Homo sapiens: one gene and its partners. The protein of the gene in region 3 interacts with the protein of the main gene of each other region in a pairwise test. Each region holds a gene or a part of one and is shown on either strand. Other genes may lie near its edges.

Evidence for each region. The genes of interacting proteins can lie anywhere in the genome.
Region 1: the proteins of TEX264 (region 3) and EMP1 interact in binary tests that used the Homo sapiens proteins (3 or more experiments, as listed by UniProt).
Region 2: the proteins of TEX264 (region 3) and TSPAN12 interact in binary tests that used the Homo sapiens proteins (3 or more experiments, as listed by UniProt).

What each region holds. Positions count from the first base shown.
Region 1 is NC_000012.12:13,213,726-13,220,464, forward strand, and holds the end of EMP1 (epithelial membrane protein 1), read left to right. Parts: coding exon 1-96; intron 97-808; coding exon 809-966; 3' UTR 967-6,216; downstream 6,217-6,739.
Region 2 is NC_000007.14:120,855,122-120,862,737, reverse strand, and holds the start of TSPAN12 (tetraspanin-12), read left to right. Parts: upstream 1-4,593; 5' UTR 4,594-4,918; intron 4,919-5,529; exon of another isoform or gene 5,530-5,903; intron 5,904-5,904; 5' UTR 5,905-5,974; coding exon 5,975-6,040; intron 6,041-7,616. UniProt on the Homo sapiens protein: Regulator of cell surface receptor signal transduction. Plays a central role in retinal vascularization by regulating norrin (NDP) signal transduction.
Region 3 is NC_000003.12:51,667,202-51,674,257, reverse strand, and holds the start of TEX264 (testis-expressed protein 264), read right to left. Parts: upstream 3,007-7,056; 5' UTR 2,970-3,006; exon of another isoform or gene 2,794-2,969; coding exon of another isoform or gene 2,711-2,793; intron 2,632-2,710; exon of another isoform or gene 2,555-2,631; intron 2,381-2,554; exon of another isoform or gene 2,279-2,380; intron 2,205-2,278; exon of another isoform or gene 2,175-2,204; intron 2,049-2,174; exon of another isoform or gene 1,957-2,048; intron 1,918-1,956; coding exon of another isoform or gene 1,866-1,917; intron 1-1,865. UniProt on the Homo sapiens protein: Major reticulophagy (also called ER-phagy) receptor that acts independently of other candidate reticulophagy receptors to remodel subdomains of the endoplasmic reticulum into autophagosomes upon nutrient stress, which then fuse with lysosomes for endoplasmic reticulum turnover.

The DNA.
Region 1 (6,739 bases), on a different chromosome or scaffold from region 3:
TCTGTGTCATTGCCCTCCTGGTCTTCGTGTTCCAGCTCTTCACCATGGAGAAGGGAAACCGGTTCTTCCTCTCAGGGGCCACCACACTGGTGTGCTGTGAGTATCTCATGGGTAGACTCCAGTTTACACTTTTAAGTCCATCTTACCATGGGTGTTTCTGGCAACTTGAACAGATTAGCACATGGTTCAGTGAAACTTCCTTGTGCAATTTTCTCCTCTGGTTATTTGTTCTCTTGTGGAGAACCTTGGATTGCTGCTTAGGTTAAGAACCCTCATCTGCTTCATTGTTCAAAACCAGTGCTCCTGGGTAGCTACCAAGTGGCAGTGCATATCTGTTAGTAGCACGTGTGTACAAGACACTTCAAGAAGGCAGAAAGGTAGGAGTTCTCAGAAAGATGAAACCACTGCCACAATGCACATCATTATTGTGATTCTCACTTAATTGTTGTTCTTTCCCAATATACTCGGTTTGGTGGAAGGACATGCTCTTTTGCATCCCTGAGTAGCTTTCCTAGACCCACAAGGGCCAGACAGGACAGCTGGGTGGTAGGCATGAGGTTCTGTGTTTTACATCACAGCGTGGCCACACAAACCAGTGCAGACATGAGAGCCCAGACACCTCTAATTTATCAACATACCGTCGAGCTTGGCCCAGGGGACATCCATCAGAACTCCTGTTTAGGGACAAACAAGCAGAATTCATTTTCCTATTGCTAATGAGGGAAATAGGATCTTCTTAAAATTAGTAAAACTTTTTCTCGACTTTAATGTAAGAAAACACACCGACAAATCTCCTTTTCCCCTGCAGGGCTGTGCATTCTTGTGGGGGTGTCCATCTACACTAGTCATTATGCGAATCGTGATGGAACGCAGTATCACCACGGCTATTCCTACATCCTGGGCTGGATCTGCTTCTGCTTCAGCTTCATCATCGGCGTTCTCTATCTGGTCCTGAGAAAGAAATAAGGCCGGACGAGTTCATGGGGATCTGGGGGGTGGGGAGGAGGAAGCCGTTGAATCTGGGAGGGAAGTGGAGGTTGCTGTACAGGAAAAACCGAGATAGGGGAGGGGGGAGGGGGAAGCAAAGGGGGGAGGTCAAATCCCAAACCATTACTGAGGGGATTCTCTACTGCCAAGCCCCTGCCCTGGGGAGAAAGTAGTTGGCTAGTACTTTGATGCTCCCTTGATGGGGTCCAGAGAGCCTCCCTGCAGCCACCAGACTTGGCCTCCAGCTGTTCTTAGTGACACACACTGTCTGGGGCCCCATCAGCTGCCACAACACCAGCCCCACTTCTGGGTCATGCACTGAGGTCCACAGACCTACTGCACTGAGTTAAAATAGCGGTACAAGTTCTGGCAAGAGCAGATACTGTCTTTGTGCTGAATACGCTAAGCCTGGAAGCCATCCTGCCCTTCTGACCCAAAGCAAAACATCACATTCCAGTCTGAAGTGCCTACTGGGGGGCTTTGGCCTGTGAGCCATTGTCCCTCTTTGGAACAGATATTTAGCTCTGTGGAATTCAGTGACAAAATGGGAGGAGGAAAGAGAGTTTGTAAGGTCATGCTGGTGGGTTAGCTAAACCAAGAAGGAGACCTTTTCACAATGGAAAACCTGGGGGATGGTCAGAGCCCAGTCGAGACCTCACACACGGCTGTCCCTCATGGAGACCTCATGCCATGGTCTTTGCTAGGCCTCTTGCTGAAAGCCAAGGCAGCTCTTCTGGAGTTTCTCTAAAGTCACTAGTGAACAATTCGGTGGTAAAAGTACCACACAAACTATGGGATCCAAGGGGCAGTCTTGCAACAGTGCCATGTTAGGGTTATGTTTTTAGGATTCCCCTCAATGCAGTCAGTGTTTCTTTTAAGTATACAACAGGAGAGAGATGGACATGGCTCATTGTAGCACAATCCTATTACTCTTCCTCTAACATTTTTGAGGAAGTTTTGTCTAATTATCAATATTGAGGATCAGGGCTCCTAGGCTCAGTGGTAGCTCTGGCTTAGACACCACCTGGAGTGATCACCTCTTGGGGACCCTGCCTATCCCACTTCACAGGTGAGGCATGGCAATTCTGGAAGCTGATTAAAACACACATAAACCAAAACCAAACAACAGGCCCTTGGGTGAAAGGTGCTATATAATTGTGAAGTATTAAGCCTACCGTATTTCAGCCATGATAAGAACAGAGTGCCTGCATTCCCAGGAAAATACGAAAATCCCATGAGATAAATAAAAATATAGGTGATGGGCAGATCTTTTCTTTAAAATAAAAAAGCAAAAACTCTTGTGGTACCTAGTCAGATGGTAGACGAGCTGTCTGCTGCCGCAGGAGCACCTCTATACAGGACTTAGAAGTAGTATGTTATTCCTGGTTAAGCAGGCATTGCTTTGCCCTGGAGCAGCTATTTTAAGCCATCTCAGATTCTGTCTAAAGGGGTTTTTTGGGAAGACGTTTTCTTTATCGCCCTGAGAAGATCTACCCCAGGGAGAATCTGAGACATCTTGCCTACTTTTCTTTATTAGCTTTCTCCTCATCCATTTCTTTTATACCTTTCCTTTTTGGGGAGTTGTTATGCCATGATTTTTGGTATTTATGTAAAAGGATTATTACTAATTCTATTTCTCTATGTTTATTCTAGTTAAGGAAATGTTGAGGGCAAGCCACCAAATTACCTAGGCTGAGGTTAGAGAGATTGGCCAGCAAAAACTGTGGGAAGATGAACTTTGTCATTATGATTTCATTATCACATGATTATAGAAGGCTGTCTTAGTGCAAAAAACATACTTACATTTCAGACATATCCAAAGGGAATACTCACATTTTGTTAAGAAGTTGAACTATGACTGGAGTAAACCATGTATTCCCTTATCTTTTACTTTTTTTCTGTGACATTTATGTCTCATGTAATTTGCATTACTCTGGTGGATTGTTCTAGTACTGTATTGGGCTTCTTCGTTAATAGATTATTTCATATACTATAATTGTAAATATTTTGATACAAATGTTTATAACTCTAGGGATATAAAAACAGATTCTGATTCCCTTCATTGTGTGAATGTTTTTTTCTAAAAAAAATGTGGAGAAATATGGATAATTATGACATTTATCCCTCATTAAGCTGCCTATCAGTTTGATTTGGACAACTTGACATTTATTTGAGACATTAAGCTACTTTCTGGTAATATATTAGGCATTTCTGCAATAGCTCTTTCAGGTAACTGAATATTATTAAGCATAGTTTTATCTTGCTTTGATTAAACCTCTTAGGCAAAAAATGGAACTTCATAAGCTAATACATTAGAAAGGGGTTATGATTATAAATCAGAAATGCTTGTGACATTAAGAAATGAGGCACTTGTGAAATTTCTTTGAAATAGCCAGCTCCTCTAATGTGTCTTCAAAATATAAAGTGATTCACAAAGGCATGCATCACACCTATTTGTAGCAGCCCATTCATTACATAAACCAGGGCATACCTGTGTGGGCTCTGTGAGTGAAGGGAGGCTTCACTACTTTCTGTGAGCAGTAAGGACTGGTATCTTTCTGTGAGCAATAAGGACTGGATAAAGACTGCATATCCTTGTGTCGTGTCAGCACCAATACAATAAGGAGGGTTTTAATGTGAAGCAGGCAATCTTCCAGCCCCTTCTGGTCTTGGATGAAATAGTTGCACAGAGTATTGCACCAAAAATACACAATGGAGGCTGAAAAGTTCAACATATTTTAAGTCAATTAATCAAATTGCATTGATTCTTGATGCTTTCTTAGAGGCCTACATGATTTCTTAGATTGCTCTGATAAACTATCATAAGGGGTCCACCTCCCCTCATTTAGCTCCCCCAGGGATTTCTTTTCCCCCATGTCATACACCCAGTCCTAAATCAACCCCCAAGGCTATCCTTCCATCCCTTCTGCAGAGGGAACTTTTGTCAGACTCTGCAACAAACTCCTAGCTCTATCCAGAGTGTCCTCTGCTGCTAAGATTGGTATCTTTCTCCTCAAAAGCCTGGATGGTGAATGGGGGTGCATTAGTCAGAATTCTCCAGAGAAACAGAAAAAATAAGATTCGCGTGTGTGTGCAAACATATATATAAATAAATAAAAATATATTTATTTTAAGGAATTGACTCACATGATTTTGAAGGCAGGCAAGCCCAAAGTCTGCAAGGGGTGGGCCAGCAGAGAGCTGGTGCTACAGTGCGGGTCTGAAAGTTGCCAGAGTCCCTTTTATAGAGAAGCTTAAAAAATATTTGTTGAATTAAATGTCTTAGGTAGAGACAAATTGAATTAAAGTGGTTAAGTAAATACTCTTAGGTGAAATTTGTGCAAATTATGAGTATAAAGAGGGTGAGCTACAGAACTCTCCATGACCACTCAAGAATGGGACCCAAAGGCAAATGATAACTTATTCATTCATCAAGGGATAAACTTGAGTTATCAAATGGTTAATAGATAAAGATCCCACTCTGCCTTGGATTTAGCCATCGCAGTCCCTGTGTAAAACCCCACCGGCTTTCAGGCATGGAAAAAAATTTCACAAAGGCCTTGAAAGAAGGCATATGAAGACCAAAAGGATATTGAGCAGGGTTCCATACTTGAATAAAGGAAGAAACTCCCTTCAATGTTTACTAAGAAATAGTTAGAATATAGCATATCCTGTATAGATGAAATGTCCTAGCGAAAATGTTTAAATGTATTTAAAGAAGAGCTAGATTTTGTGGGGGGAGAGAAGGGAATAGGATAGGCTGGTGGGAGGAAGAATGAAAAGAAGAAAACTTGTTGGAAATTTTGGAGTAGATTGTGAGGAGGGGTGACTCACTTTAAAGATGTATCATTTGGAGGTAGACACGATTTTCAGAGCACAAAACAGATAAGGAAAGATGTATGCTGATTGTGTGGAGCCCAAGGGAAGGCGGGGTTTTGGAGTCTTACGTGGCTTTGTTTCTGAAAGGGAGACATGTGAAGCCTACTCCTGAGGCGGGAGGCTGGGGACATGACCATCAAGACCTATAATTGATAAACAACTAGGGGCTGGGTGCTGCACCTACATGCTGGGGAAATAGAAAATGAAGCAGACATGTGTCCCATCTTCTTCCAGCTTTCAGTCTAGCTTGGAAATAAATCTCATACCTAGAGAAAATGGAGGATCTGTGGGATGTAGATGAGGTGGGAGCATGAATGCCTAGGGAGGGAAGAAGAAAGATTTTCAGTTCTTCAGCTTTTCCTCATGACCCTATCTCATGCCATGAGCAATTGTCTGGCATCTCCTGTGGGTTGGACCACTGCTGCATTTCTTACTTGCCAACATCACTTTGTCCCAAATGCCATTCCTTTGTTCCAGGGCCTCCTTGTCTTCCATCTGGGGAACTGGAGGTGAGAAGCATTATAATAGCCTCTCTGCCTTTATCTACAATCTCTCCAACCTGTGCTTTATGCTGATGTCAGGATGGGCGTTGATGGATGCTTCTATCACTGTCGGGGCAGGGAGGGCCAGAACACTAGCATAAGATGTCAATATGTCTATCCATATGTCAGGTCCATACTCAACTCAAGCTTCTGGTTAACTGCTGATCTATTGGCAACTCCAGTTCCCAATAAGTTCCTCATCTCCTTCTGAGACCACCTCAGTGTGGACTTAATCGTCCACATCACTGTCAGCATTTTGGTTAAAACCATTCAACAAGTCTCCAGGAAGCTCCAAACTTTCCTTCATCTTCCTGTCTTCTTCTGAGCCCTCCAAACTCTTCCAACCTCTACCCGTTACCCAGTTCCAAAGGTGCTTCCACACTTTCAAGTATCTTTATAGCAATGCCCCACTCCTGGTACCAAATTCCTGTATTAGTCTGTTTTCACACTGCTATGAAGACATACTTGAGACTCGGTAATTTATATAGAAAAGAGGTTTAATTGACAAAAAAGCTAACAAAGTGAGCCCTGATTCAAAAATGACTGTCTACACTTGGCACATGAGGGACTTTATGATATTAAGAGATTAATTAAACAACAGTGGATGGGGAGGAAGAACAGACTTTTGAGCTCTTCCCAATATAGGAATGTGTTAGTTCTAAAAATTTTCTTAAGTTGTTTGCTTGGAACTCAGAGTATATTTTTCCATACGAAAAATTCAGAACTATTTTATTTATGATATGGGCTAAAAAGACTTCTGTAATCTAGCTTGGAAACTTAATAATCATTAAACTTATTTTCAATGAGATACGACTGTTTAAATTCTGAAACCTGGAACCCTCTGTTGCCCTGCAAATGCTTTAGGAAAAGAAGAGTGTGTCTGATGGAGGATAAGATGGAAAGTGAATATGGATCCATATTCAGAAGACACGGTTGCATTACAGCAAAGGAACAGCTTTTTGCTGGCCATGCTAAGCATTTGACATTGATGTGGGAGAACATGGCATTCAGTATGACTCTGTCTGGATATATATAGTTTTGTAAATTGGGTGTTCTTAAGTTGAGACTGCATGTTTCATTCCAAAATCAATCTTAGTTTTCCCACTTGCATTAGCATATTGTATTAGTCCGTCTTCACACTGCTATAAAGACATACCCGAGACTGGGTAATTTATAAAGAAAAGAGGTTTAATTGACTCACAGTTCTGCATGGCTGGGGAGGCTTCAGGAAACTTATAATCATGGCAAAAGGGGAAGAGGTACGTCTTACATGGTGACAGGGGAGAGAGAGCATGCAAGAGAAGGGAAAACTGCATTATAAAACCATAAAT
Region 2 (7,616 bases), on a different chromosome or scaffold from region 3:
TGATTTGGGCACTTCTTTAAAGAATTACCTGGTGTGTAAATGCAAATGACGATGCTGAAAGTAAGCTTATGGCATGGGATGGAAATGATGTGATACGAGTTTTCTCAGGGTCCTTTGCTATTGCCATGAGGTTCCTGCTTCAGTGGTTCTTTCAATAACTAAGAAACTTTGCTAAGTAGTGCCCCAAAATGGTTGGCTGAGAGCTGGGTTGTCCTAGCAGTGAACAGGAGAGAGGATGGTACTATGCCTTCCTTTCTCTATCCCTCAGTTCAAATAAAAATCTGACTGTGTTCAGTTATCTACCTTCCTCTCTTTGGCCCTGTGCTTTAGAGAAGGGCTGTCCCAGGCACAGGTAATACATCTTGATTGGTTTAAAACCTGGCCAGTCATGGTGGCTCACACCTGTAATCCTAGCACTTTGGGAGGCTGAGGTGGGTGGATCACCTTAGGACAGGAGTTTGAGACCAGCCTGGGCAACATGGTGAAACTCTGTCTCTACAAAGACAAAATTAGCACGACGTGGTGGTGCATACCTGTAGTCCCAGCTTCTCGAGAGGCTAAGGCATGAGAATCACTTGAACTCGGGAGGCAGAGGTTAAGTGAGCAGAGATGGAGCCACTACACTCAAGCCTGGGTGACAGAGTGAGACTCTGTCTCAAACAAAACAAAACAAAACAAAACAAAACAAAACAAAACAAACCAGTTATGGTAGAACCATAGTTCTTGTGAATAATTGGTAGATATATGAGTATGTGACCAGGTTCTAGCCAATCAATCAAAGGGATAATCTGCTGCAGAACTCCTGGGAGAGGTTTGCTAGATCCTAAGAGAAACTCATAGGAGAAAATACCTTCTTCCTTTGGAAGTAATGGTAACTGAAAATGATGCTTGAATTTGCACAGCCATCTTGTGACCATAAGAGGAGGTACCTGAGTATAGTATGATTACTCATTGTGTGTGTCAGGAGAGTAAGGAGGAAAAAGAACTGATTCCTTGATATCACTACTGGGCAGATGAATCGCTATTCCTGGACTCATTGTTATGTGAAACATATTTGTTTTTGTGGCTCTTTGAGTGCATTTGCTAGTTTGCATAGGGAGGCCAGATTCAACTAATACAAATGTAGGGTTTGCAATTCAATTTGAATTTCAGGTAGACATTGAATAATTTTTTAGTATATGTATGTCCAGTGCAATATTTGTCCCATGCAACATTTGGGACATGCCTATACCAAAAAATAAAAAATTGTTGTTTATCTGAAATTTAAATCTAATGAGGTGTCTTGTATTTTATCTGGCAATCCTAAGCTTACAGTAGAAAGCAGTCTACTTAATTCAGTAATGAAAGGATTTTCTCAGGTCTTATTAGGTCTGTATACTCTTTTAGAAGTGAGGTGAAAGTAGATTTACCAGTCATAGTTTAAGTACACATATTTGAATTTCAGCTTCATATTCTCGAAAACTAACTTTAAAAAGTTCGAAAATTTTCCTCTTAAGTCTTGTCCAACCAGATTTGAAATTTTATTGTAATGCAGATAAACAGTGGAAAGAATCAGACAGATCTTAGAATCTCAGCTTCTTTATTTACTACCTGTGTGGGTCTGGCAAAAATCAGCTATCTGAATTGATTTCAAGTATCTCAACATATAGTTATGAGGAATTAATAAGATAAATTGTGAGAAGCACCTATTATGTCAGACACATGTAATTTGTTCAAAACACATTAGGTGTCTATCCCATATTAATTGTAAAGTACTGGCTTAGGAGTACTTGTGAGGGTCTTGTACTAAGAAGGAATAGCAACTCATACATCCAAACTCCTGTGTTATCCTTTTTCTCTCCACAACTTTAGCAGAATGAATAGAATAAGATATGAACAAACAAGCTGCCATACGGAGTGAGGAACTTGTATTCTCTTACATATAGCTGAGTTTTACTCCTGACACTGGGACTGACATGTATGTGATTCCTTGTAAATGCTTATTTTATTACTTTTTGATGTCATTATTATTGTTATTATTATTATATAATAAGAAAGGATAGTTTTGCCTTTTCTTGGAGGGTAAGAACTTGTCTTAGTATCTTCAGCATGAGGCACAGTAGATACCACCACTGAAATGATACTTATTGGAGAACACCTGGCCACAGAATTGGGTTCCTGACTAATGGGTAGTAAATAGACCATACAATTTTCCTAATATGTTATTACATATTCAAATTTTTATGTGCATATTATGATATTTCTATCCTCCTTTTGTTCACACACACAAAAAAACAGATCTCACAGAGAAAAATATAGAACCCTCAGAATGACAGCTGCGATGTGAAGTCTTACTGTGCTTCCACAATTCTGGGAAAGAGAAGAATTGGAGAGGGAGGGAAGAACAGCTGCCTTCAAGTAGTTGAAGGGCTGTCATATGGGAGGAAGGCTTGCTCATGCCATGGACTCCAAGGGCGGAACTAAGGTTGAAGGGTAGAAGTTAAAAGGTGGTATGGTCAAGTTTAAGCAATAAAAACTGCCCATTACTGCAATGTCTCAAATGTGGTGAGGTCTCCTCTACTGAAATGTTGATTCACTGTCTCTGATGACCATTTATCAGGAATATTAGAGCAGTAACTACAGCTCTGTTTTCTTCTTAACTTGTAAAATGGGGATAATAATCCCAATTTATCGACTCACAGGAGAGGGATTTGATCCAACGAAATCTAAAGAGACCCTTTTGCTAGTTTTTAGGCAGCTGTAAAGCCCTCGTTGCAGGGTTTTCAAATTTTGCTGCAAACTAGAATTACCTTGGGAGCTTGGAAAACCCTGTGTGTCTAGGCCTCACCTGCAGAGACTCCGATTTAAGTGGTATCAGGCATGCCAGAGAATTAGGGTTGTTTCAAAGCTCTCCAAGTGATTCTCGTGTACAACAATTTCGAGAACCATTAAACTAGAGTACTAAGAGCCATTATTCTGGATTTTACTTTGGAATCTAGGTTGGACTACAGATGTGACGTTGAGCAACTACTTTATCTTGGATCTGTATTTCTTGTTTACCAGGAAGAAGAGGACATGCATACTTCTAAAGTAACTTCCTCTAGTATTTTATTACTTTAAGGCAGTTGACCCTTAAAGGTATACGAATTAAGGAAAGGGCACTTAACTACCTTCTAGGAGTAGAAGAGGATCTCTGCTTTGACACATGGGAATTGTTGGCACTCTTTTTCTCAGTTTTAATAGCAGTCATGGACTCCTTTCAATGCGGGGATGTTTATACCTCTCCGGGGAATGTATGGCACCAACAGCATTTGGATGGCTGGTTGTTTCAGCAGTCCTTTGCTTAAAATAGGCATGCACCCTAATTTGAGAAGAAACTGGCAGAGGATAAAAGTGGGTTTCTTTGCTCTTCCCCAGTATTCTAGAAGCTGCTTCATTATCAGAGTTGGAGTCATCTGATGGATAACTGGACATGTTTCTTGGTGTTTTTTTTGTGTATGGCTATACTTCTTTATACTCTTTTGGGTTGCTGTCTTACATACTGCTTAGTGACTTGCTTACCAATAATTTTCCTAGCCTAACCCAGGACAACCATGTTGTCTTTTGGTCTTGACTTTTCCATATGAGACTGCATGTCTTATTGTCACTCCAGTCATGCAGCAACTAACTCTAGACAGGCAGTCATGGACATAGGATTCCATTTTTTTTTTTTTTTTTTTTTCTGCAAGGAAATCCAAGGACTCCAGTTATTAGGTCAAAGATGTTGCTCGTATTCCAGGTAATTCATATTTGCTGGTGAAGTTTTATTTGCCATGCAGTGCCCACAAAAGTAATCCTAGAAATGAGCAGTACTGTGAGGCATAGCACAACACATCCACATTTTATGTGGAGGATATGATCCAGTGGCATTTTATTTAGTGTGAAACTTCTGTCTTCTAAAAGGGAAGATTCTTTTGGAAGGATGGTCTCCTGCTGTGTAATACTTCATGAATTTCTAGTTTAAAAAAATTAGATTTTCCAAAGATCCACTACTATGTACACATTTCAAAATAAATCACCCAGTTAACTCAAAACAATCTTATCGTGAGAAATTTTGGAAAGCTTGAGTTACTTCTAAGAGTTAAAAATGTTCTTTCCTCCTCTTCTGCATGTCAGACTGCACATGATTACTCTGATGTTTCCGTAAATGCTATTAGTGCACTATGAAAGTGGGAAAGAACTTAAAAAAAAAAAAATCCGGGAGGGCAACAAAGCAATAAGAAGGATCATAGGGCACCATGTTAATAACAAATCACAGGAGGTGGCTCCATAAAGGTTGTGAAAACTAGTTTCTCATTGCAGGAATTGGGTTGGGCCACCCCTTCACCCCCCTTCTCAAACACAAATATTATCATATAATAAAAGCCTGCTTCTCTATGCTTATAACCCAGCCTCCATTCCTTCGACGCCACCATTTTAAAGGGATTTACTGCACGGACTTCTCCCAAGTTCCTAGGCATTATCTTCTGGACCCTATCCTGCAGAGGTGAAGCGTCCCTTTGGGGACTCTCGCTGGGTGAGAGGGACAAGAAACACCCACTAGGACCCAACCCCGGCAGCCAGCGGCTCGAGCATGCGCTGAGAGTTTGTGCAGCTGGCCCTGGCTGCCGCCGCTGCCTCGTCCGGACTCGGAGAGGACTTGGGAGGGACAGCGGCGCTGGGAGGTGGCTTAGCAGAGACTTTCCAGCAACTGCTGCCCAGGACTTTTTTTTTTTTTTTTCTTTTTCCCAGGAGGCGGCGACGGCGGCGGCGGGGGGAGAGGAAGAGAAAGAAGCGTCTCCAGCTGAAGCCAATGCAGCCCTCCGGCTCTCCGCGAAGAAGTTCCCTGCCCCGATGAGCCCCCGCCGTGCGTCCCCGACTATCCCCAGGCGGGCGTGGGGCACCGGGCCCAGCGCCGACGGTAAGTGGCCACGCGTCTGTCGCCTTTCCTGCCCGCTGTCCCGCCAGCCCGCCGGCGGCTGCCCTCCGCGCTGTGTGCTAAACTACTTAAGGGCTGGCTCTGGGGCTCCCTGCCGCCGGCGCTTCCCCTCGCGCCCTGCCGGGGGCGCGCGGACGCGATGGCTGGGTCGGTGGCCGCGCTCGCTTTGTGCTCCGCGGGCGGCTTTGAGCGAGGGGTCGCGGGAGCGTCCCGGGCGGGGGAAGCGGGGTTTGAATGACTAACCCGGCGTCTGCACAGCTGCATCGGCCCTAATTCCCCGGCGCCCCCCGCCCCCCGCCCACTGTCCCAGGCTAATCCATCATTCTGGGGCCGAAAACATCATTTCTCACGTTCTCCCAGAGAAACCCTAGTAGCCGGGCGGAATCTCAACTCCGCGCTGCCCCCTCGCCCCCGCCCCCGCCCCCGCCCCGCCGCCCCAGTCCCTTGCATTCACACCCGAGCTGCGGGACGGGGTAGAGGGGTGCGGAGTTGGAGTGCCCAGGAACTGTCCTAACTAGAAGGGCGCTCATTCTCTCGGGCTTGCCGGTGGCGCCTCTGACGTGTCCGGGGTAGGGGGCAGTGTGGTTTCTCACCTTCAGGACAGTGCCGAGCACAGCTGTCCTCGAGGAGGGGCGTGGAGTGAGGGAGGTTTTCAAGAGCGTCTCATCAGAATGCACAGGGCTCCGCCGCGTGTCCCCTGAGAACGCGAGTTTACTGTGCGACTTCATTCATCCGGATAGTTGCTCTTTTCTTTTCCCAGCAGGTGTTATCTGAAGCCGGTTTGGAACTTTTGGGAGTTTAGTTACCATTATGATTTTAACAAATGATTTTTGATGAGGCGATGTCTCGAATGCACTGGGCCTCGGGACCCTCTGGACCCTGCTGAGGGCGGGTGGAGGAGGGACGGGCAGGCTGTGGGAAGCGTGATGGTGAGATGTCCCGTGTTCTCTCTCCCCCGCCCCCTGCAGATCGCTGCCGTTTTGCCCTTGGGAGTAGGATGTGGTGAAAGGATGGGGCTTCTCCCTTACGGGGCTCACAATGGCCAGAGAAGATTCCGTGAAGTGTCTGCGCTGCCTGCTCTACGCCCTCAATCTGCTCTTTTGGGTAAGTAAGTTTCACTGCACCAACAGGTGGGAACGGCTGGCTCTGGTTTTCTGCAGCCACCGGATAATGCGCCAAAGGGCATGGCTAAGCATTAATTAATTACATGGGATAACACCCTTTATTTTTCAGAGAAGTAAAATTTGACCTTCTTAAAATGCCTTTGATCTAGCTCAAGTTCCATTTGTAATTAGAACAAAGAAATCCACCCCTGGATACTACTGGCAGTAAAATTAGACTTGAAGTTAATCTAGGGATATAAATAAATGCACGTGCTTCTACTCATAGATAAGAAAATTATGACATACTACTTAGGGAACTGCTTGTTTGCGGGAATTTTAGATAATTGTGCAAGCCATAAATTGTTTCTTTACATCTCTGTCGCCTGTAAAATCTAGTTGGGCCAAGTCTTAATATATTTTTTGTGGGCGGGGACGAGGGGGAGGTGGTGGTGGAATTCACACCCAGATAACCTATCACAGAAAGGCTGAGTAGATTTGTCTAGGGGATTCCATACGGTCTGAAGGGTGATTTTTATGTAACTAATTCTAAGTTGGCAAAGTTTAAGGAATTGTGTGTATGCTTTTGGAAAATCCCATAACCATTTAAGGAAATAAAATACATAAAATGTAACAAGCTCATGGAAATCTTTATGCCCTATGAGTTAATGACTTTTTATGCTTTAAATCTTAATAAAGTATGATTAATAATCGTATTATTACTTATAAAACTTAGGAAAATGTAACAATTTAAACAGTAAATGTTGCTTCAGGAGGCTGCCATTCTTAAGCAAATTGTTCTTTCCATTTTTTTGTGTTCTATTAATAATTTTATTCAAAATTTTCTGTTACAAATTTTATTGTGCAATTTATTTATGTGGCTGACTGGCTGGCGTGCTGACTGGCTGGCATTGCCCAGCCTTTTTTTCATAGGGCTATTACATGTGGTCTCTAGAAGATGACATTTAGGTTGAACTGCACCTTATAGATGGCCCCATTTTAAAGGATAAATTAAGTCTTACTTCAGTGAGTAATCTGAAAATATCTAAAATGGCAGCATTCCTTTTCTCAACATTAAAGCATTAATTTCTCAAAATTAAAGCATTGGGTAGTTAAATTCACCATTTGGAAATGTAAAATCACAAGTTGATCTTATTGTAGTTTATACTTCTTAAAAGCTTGATTTTTAAGTGAATCATTAAATTACCTGGATCATTAAAAGTTATTAAGAGTTTAAACTCCATTTCTTTAAGATGTATGATAATTATCACTCCTGTTTACTAGTTTTTCACTTTTCTACATTGTGCTTTTTAATTATAGAATCATCACATTCCACTTCTAAAAGGAGCTTTAAAGATGGCCTGGTTGAACGTCCTTCCTTTGTGAGTGAGGAAATTAAGTGCAGATTAAGTGACTTGCCAAAGATCAGATAGTCCAATGGTGGCAGTGCCAGGAACAGAATTCAGCTTTCTTGCCCCTAGACAGTGTCTTTCACTTGACCCTTACTGAGTTTTGAACCTTAGAATTACTAAGATTGTTGTTGTTGTTGTTTAATAAAGAATAAAGCTTTGAAAAATTTG
Region 3 (7,056 bases):
AGAAGGGAGAGGAGGCTGGTAGCCTACTCTGACAATGTGCCCACTTGCCCGCCAACCAGTTCTGGCCCAACCTCCTCAGACCTGCCTTGGGTGCTCTGACCCAGAAAGGGGAGGGGCCAGAGGTGTTTACACACAGAGTGACCTGGAAGGGAGCTACAAGGATGACTGAAGCCACAAGCCTCTTTATTTCTTAATCGCAGTTGGTGAGGATCTCAGAGCAGCTCAAACTGTCAGCTGGCAGCCCTGGTCACACCTGGGGAAACTGAGTCACAGAGGGGCACAGGAGTGATTCAGCCAGAGACATACTCCGGGCCCTGACAAGTCTCCCCGAAGATGTACCAGATACCAGCCAGCCTGCCTTTCCTCCACATTACCTCTTCCTCCCCACAGCTGAGCCACGCCACCAGCCCAGCCTCCCCAAGCCTCAGGGACGACTGCCAGAGGGAGGACTGGCAAATGCTAGGGTCCAAACACTTACTAACGACAGGGAAACCATAAGGAACAAAAACTTGTGAGGAAAAATGTGCCTCAGGAAGAGAATTTCATAAGAAACTCTCCTTTTCTAAGTACATCTGGCCTGCAGGGACCTTGCTATCCAGCAAGCTTACCCATCCAGAACCAGAGGAAAGACCAGAGCAAAGCGGCCTGAGCAGGCAGAACAAAGTCCAACACTAAGCTTCCCAGACTTGAACCACCAATGTTAACAAGCTTCATCCCAATTTTCCAGCCCACAGAAGAAACAGTGAGTAGTAAGAGGAAAAGGCTGCTAAAAGGGGAGTCGCACAGCAGGAGGAAGTAACAATTATCCCTAAGAGGAAAAGAAGCTGTTCAAGAGCAGTCCCAGGAACATAACACAGAGGCCAGTCTGTGAGCTATTCAAGGCAGGCTGCCTAGTTCTCCAGGCAGCTTGGGGCCAGAGGCCTAACCCTCTTACACAGAGGGCTTGACCTGAGTTGCCTGGCGGGGGGGAAAAATCACAGCCCAGAGAAGACTGTTTAAAGAGGAAGGGAGCCATGTGACCCACTGGGGGGACATTCCCACCCCAATTATTTAAAAGTAATATTTAACATTTAAAAGGTTTTGAAGCTAAAAAGGCCACGCTGCAACTTTGTGGAATACTTAGCTCTGTGGAATTATTTCTTCCCTGTGGGTGCTGGGTGTTGATTTTACGCTAAAAAAAAATTGTCTTTGGAGTCAATGAGCACACAGTATTTGCTCACAAAGAGGCAAAGTAAATTTCTAAACTTTCGGTGTCAAGAAATTGAGGTGTTGCCCACTAGTCTCACCCATCTGTGCTTCTACCCATCAGTATCTCTCTCTTTTCTGCCTGTCCTACTCATCTTGTCTCCAGTAACTTTCATTCCAATTTTCTTTGATAATGATGAGAAATCTTCCACTGAATGCTTACTATACGCCAGGCACTGTCTAAATGTTGAAACACAGCTACTTCATTCACCCTCAAAGCAATCCAAAGAGGTAGGTAAGGCTAAAGGTTCAAGTAGTTAGAGGTTAAGAGACTTGCCCAAGGTAACACAGGTATTAAACAGAGCCACGTGGACCAAAATGCAGGCAACACAAGCCCAGACAGTCTGATTCCAGCCCCTCATTTCCACTTTCTCTCTCCTCTCTGGTGACTGGCTTCCAAAACGCCTGAAGCATTAAATCCTTGTTGGACATCTCTGAGCCCAAAGCTGGAAAACTCTCAGCATCTAGGCCCCCACTTGCCTTGGGAATGACAAGCCCTCACCCTGATCTGCCATCTCAGCTGAACACTTCCTGTCTCCTCAAGGAAACTTAGTATCTACCTTTCTCTTCCTCTCACTTCCCAAACTGCTCAGAAAACGGCGGGGGGGAAGAAAACCCACCTGGGGGTCTCAGAGCCTTGGTCGGCACGTGGAGAGGTAACGTGAATTTCCCCTATATTCAAGAGAAAAGGAAGAAGGTCTGGGAGCTCACCTGAAATGCCAGGCTCACTTTTAGTAACTGCTGGCATCCAGTGCGGCAGGGGCCGAGCGCTCCAGTGCTGGGAGCTGAAAGAACAGTCACCCCTGCCCAGGAAATAACCACTGAGCCAACCATCATGCCCTGATTACCGTCCTCAGGGAAAGCCTACCGGTCCCTCTAAAGCACCCTCGTCCCATTCTCAAACCCCCTGTGGAAATCAGAAGCCAAACCTAGCTTTACAATGTCAGGTCTCTTCGCTAGAGCTCTGGTCACGCCCCTCTTCCTGGAGTACTCCAATCACACTTGGCGCCCAGAAACTGCCGCTGCCGCTGACCTTGGGCAGACTGCGCCCTCCCTCTAGCCTCGGCTCCCCCTCCGCTCAGAGGCCCGGGATGGACGCGTGCGGCCGGTGCCAGCGAGCCTCAGGGAAGGCTGCGCCCAGCCAGCTTCCTGGTGCCGCTCACGTGCGCGGCGGCGGAGGGCCGGGCCCTTAAACGGCCCCCGTCCTGGGCTAAACTTCGGTGCTAGCAGAGGGCGGAAGGACTATGGAGGGTGGGGGGCCGCCGCCTCCCACTTTCGGATTCCAGCCCCTGCTCACCCCGGGCCTTGCCTATTTACTCAGAGCCTTTCTCTTCGCCCACCTCCTCACGGAGCCCCACGCACGTCTGTAACTTAAAGGACGCTAAAGTTTGCAGCCCAGGCTGCGAGGCGCGGCCTTGGGGGACGGGGGCGGAGTTAAAACGCGACTCGCGCCTCTTTCCCTCACCTCCACGGCCCCGGGGCATGCCCTGCACCGGTGGCCGCGGAAGTGGGCTGCCCGGAAGAGTAGGGGCTGCCCCAAGGTCGCATCCAGGCCCTCGGACCTGGCCGAGGCCAGCTGTGGGCAAGACAAGATGCAAAGAGCGGCCCGGGCCGCGGGGGTCACGGAGGGGACACGGAGAGTCCTGAGGTCGCGCCAGGGCGGACAGGGGGAGTCCCAGACCTACGCCCCAGTGGGTATGCCTCTCCTCTGGCCCGGCCCTCACCTCAGCAGCCGCCCGCTGCGGACGCCGATCCGCGCAGGCGGCTCAGGGTTCGGTTACGGAGCCTGCGCGCGCCCGCCGCGCACGCTCGCTCCGCCCCCTCTCGCGGCGGGACATGGCCGTGGCCGTGGGCGCGTGCGCGCGGGACCCGGAGGGCGGAGGCCTGCCCCGCCCCGTCTCCATGGCAACGGGCGTGTGCCTAGCCCCAGCGCTGGCTGCGGCGGAACCCACGGCGTACCTTCCCGCCTCCAACAAACTATCCGGTTGCTGAGGTTGATTTAGCAACACCCCAGGGCATCTGGGTTGGCAGGAGCACCACAGTGACAGCCTGGCCCAGGCTCGGGTACGGGAGGCAGCCCAGTGGCCCGCAGTAGAGGGCCAGGCTGGGGACCAGGGAGCTGGGGCTGAGGAGAATTTGTACAGCCTAGGGAGGCGCAGCACAGCAGTATCAGCCTCTGGCATTTGTACCACCTTTAGTCCTGCCACTTTCTCTCACTGTGGCTTCGCAACAGACTTGGGAACCAAGAAAGGCATAGGTGAGGAAGCTGAAGCCCAGTCTGGGCTCGCGGAAGAAACTGGTGGATCCAACTTCTGCATAGCGCAAATATCTGCTTCCTGCCTCCACCCACCCATTCCCACTTCCGTGAGTATATTCATCCATCCAACACTTATTATTACTCCTTGCCAGGACAGTTCTAGGGGCTGGGGATAGAGTGAACAAAACCAAGGTTCTGCCCTCCTGGAGTTCACGTTCCATGGGAATGCCCTTCTTCCAGGCTCCTCCCTCAGTGCCCAGGTTGTGGCTGTGGGAGGCTGGTCTACCTTTGTGGTTTAGCGGTAACTTACGTGATTCCCACGTCAAGTGTAAGCTCCTTGATGATTGGTTCAATCTTCACCTCAAATTTCTGAGGACCTACAAACTACAAAGCACTCTTCTAGGGGCCCAAAGATAAAACGCTCCCCTCGTGAAAATCCCGGACTTTTGGTGGGAGGTGGGGAAGGTGACAACTATGCTCATAAGCTTGGCTACAAGACCGGCGAGGCCAAGAGCTACTTTGGTATCCTGACAAGGACTGATGTTTGGGAGGGGGATCCAGCAGATGGGAACACCACGAAGGTGGTGGTGGGAAAAGTCAGCAGTCACAGGGTGGTTCACCTTGTGGATCCCACTACTGCACCAGCAAAGAGCAGGCTGGGCACACAGAGACAGTCAAAATCCCAGCTTCCTTTCCCTCTGCTTCACATTCTTCCTTCCGCAGGCAGGGGAGTTTGAACCTTATCCACAGGGCCAAGCCTGTCCCAGCCCTCTAGGCAAACTGGCAGAACAGGCAGCTGGCCCCTCACAGGCACTCCGGGCTGGGCCAGTGCAGGTCGCAGCAGTTGTTTTACCTATGAACATCAAGCACATGGTCAAACCCTCAGCTTAGGTGCCCCAGGCAGGCGGGCTACACACTTGGTAGCATTTCCTTTGACACAAGGAGCAGCCATGGCCCGGGCTCAGAGACTGACAGCCTCTGCCTGCAGGGTCTGCGTGGTCATTTCTCCTGCTTCTCAGAAGGTGGTGAGCTTTTCCCAGGAAACCATTATAAGGAAGTGCCCATTCTTTATCTTGTTCTCTCTGCTCACTTCCCTTAGCCTGATTGGGGAACTCTAGAGCCCCACATCAGAGTTCAACATGTGCCTCAGGAGCTTCAGCACCTCTTTTGTGGGAGGAGAGTCCGCTGGTGACTGGGGCTGCAGGCCATGACATCAGCCTGCCCAGCTTCACCTCAGGCTGCTTCCAACAGTGCCAAGTGAGGTCCCTTGGCAGGATCCCTGCAAGGCAGCGGCTGGCCACCAGGAGGCAGCAGCCTACTCTACAAGGCACTTTCTTCATTCCAACCCCTTGTAACAGGTCTGAGGAAACCTGTTCGCCCAGCCATGTGCTGCAACCATCCTCCACTCCCAATCTTATCTCCCAATAGCACAGATTCCCCTATCATGAGTCCAGACTTGGCCTTCATCTCCTCTTGCCTTCCTCTGTCCAAGGAATCACTACAGAGATTCTTTCTCTATCCTTCTTTGTAAATTTCCAGAAAATTGTTTCCCCAGGGCCCCTCCCCTTGAAGAAATTAAACAGGAAGCTGGAGTAGACTGTCCCTTCTTTCCCCCACCTCTCACACTCCAAAGCTCTGTTTAACTCTGTGGGCCAGTGGCTAGATTCCCCAACATGGATGACAGAGAATACACATGCAATAAGAATGTTTTCGCTGCCACCAGCCACTCACAGACACACTGTCTCCCACCCTCTGAAGGCATTGTGCCCAATCCCCAGCCACTCACTGTCTAGTCAGGGCTGCCCCTGCAGGACTTGCCTTGGCTGAGGACCAGCTAGCTTCAAGCCACTCTGAAGTCAGCTTGCTGTTTCCCCTGGAGCCTGGTAATACATCCTTCTTCAGGTGAACAAAAGCAGAAAAAGCCCAGTGAACCCCACTGCAACAAAGAGCCTGCCATCAGTCTTCCTTCTGTTCCTGCCTATCTCATCACCCAAGGGCTATCCCAGAGCCCACTATGTTCTAAGATCTATTCCTTTCACCACCACCCAGCCAAACAACTATCCAGACAATTCCTTGATCAAACAACACTGCCTTCTTGAGTTTAAATTTTATTTTACAAAAAGAGAAATAAAGAAAACTGATAGGCAGTTATACTGACTTACAATTGTTCTGTTTGCTTTTTTTTAAAAAAGTGACATGAAACACAAGTAAAAATAAATACGTCATAGAAACAGCCAGTTGCCCAGTCTCTGGGGCAGGAGCGCCTGCCCTGCTGAGAGGAGGGAAGCCCATGATCACACCAGCAGCTGGATCACCCAGCCACAGATGCTCCTCGAAGCCAGGCACAGGTCCCAGGCCTCAGGGGCGTCCTGAGGAAAGAAGACGGAAAACCAAAGCCAGGTGCCAGGACCCTGGGGCCACCTCATTATCCCCCACTCCTCCTGGCAGCAGTCTGGTCTTAGTGGTTATCCATAGCGACCCCCCTTAACCCACCTGGACCCTCTTCCCCTGACCTCTCTGAAGATGGTACAAGGGAAAAACCTGTCTTGGGCAGGCTGGGGGGGATTCTTCTGGTGAGTCCCCAGCCCACCCTGAGTAACACAACCAGATAACAGTCATTTTACACCCAGGTGCACATGAGCACAGCACACAAACACACACACACACACTCACACACACACACACACACAGCTGGGCTGAGCTCTCTTCCAGGGAGGGTCCTGGGTCCAGTCACAGTATGAGGTCCTCTCTCTTCTGAATATCATCCCAGTAGTGGCAGCAGAGAGTACCCAAACCTCCCCAAGCCCTCTGCATTGCAGACACTGCAGCCTGCTTGGCTACCCCTCCCCAACACACTAGATTACTATGTCAAATAGACCTGCAAAAGGGAAAGGTGCACACTCAGGTCCCTGAAGAGCAAAGAAGTTGGACACTGCCTGCTCAAGAAGTTCATTGTTATAAGACTCAGGTATTCATAAAAGGCCTAGGGCTAAGCTAGTAGCACAGAAAAGCCGTTAAGGGGATCACAGCAGAATACACAGGGCAGAAGAGAAGAGTTGGCAGCAGGGGAACGGAGTCTCAAGGTGACCAATAGAGAGCACAACATTCTCAAATAGTCCTTGAGGTGCTGATTCCTGGGAGTAGTCAGCAGAGGGCCAGAACATCTCCCAGGGGTCCTTTTGGGGAAGGATGACTTCACTTAGTTTTAGGGGTGAAGAGCCACTGAGCTGGGTGCACAGAAGGCCATGGCTCAGAAGGGAAAGACTGATCTGAGAAATCAAAAGGAAGTGGGGGCCAGGAGCAGTGGCTCACGCCTGTAATCCCATCACTGGGAGGCCGAGGAGGGTGGATCACTTGAGGTCAGGAGTTCAAGGCCAGCCTGGCCAACGTGGTGAAACCCCGTCTCTACTAAAAAATATACAAATTAGCTGGGCATGGTGGTGTGCACCTGTAATCCCAGCTACTTGGGAGGCTGAGGCAGGAGGATCGCTTGAAACCGGGAGTGGAGGTTGCACGGAGCCAAGATCACACCATTGCACTCAAGCCTGGGTGAC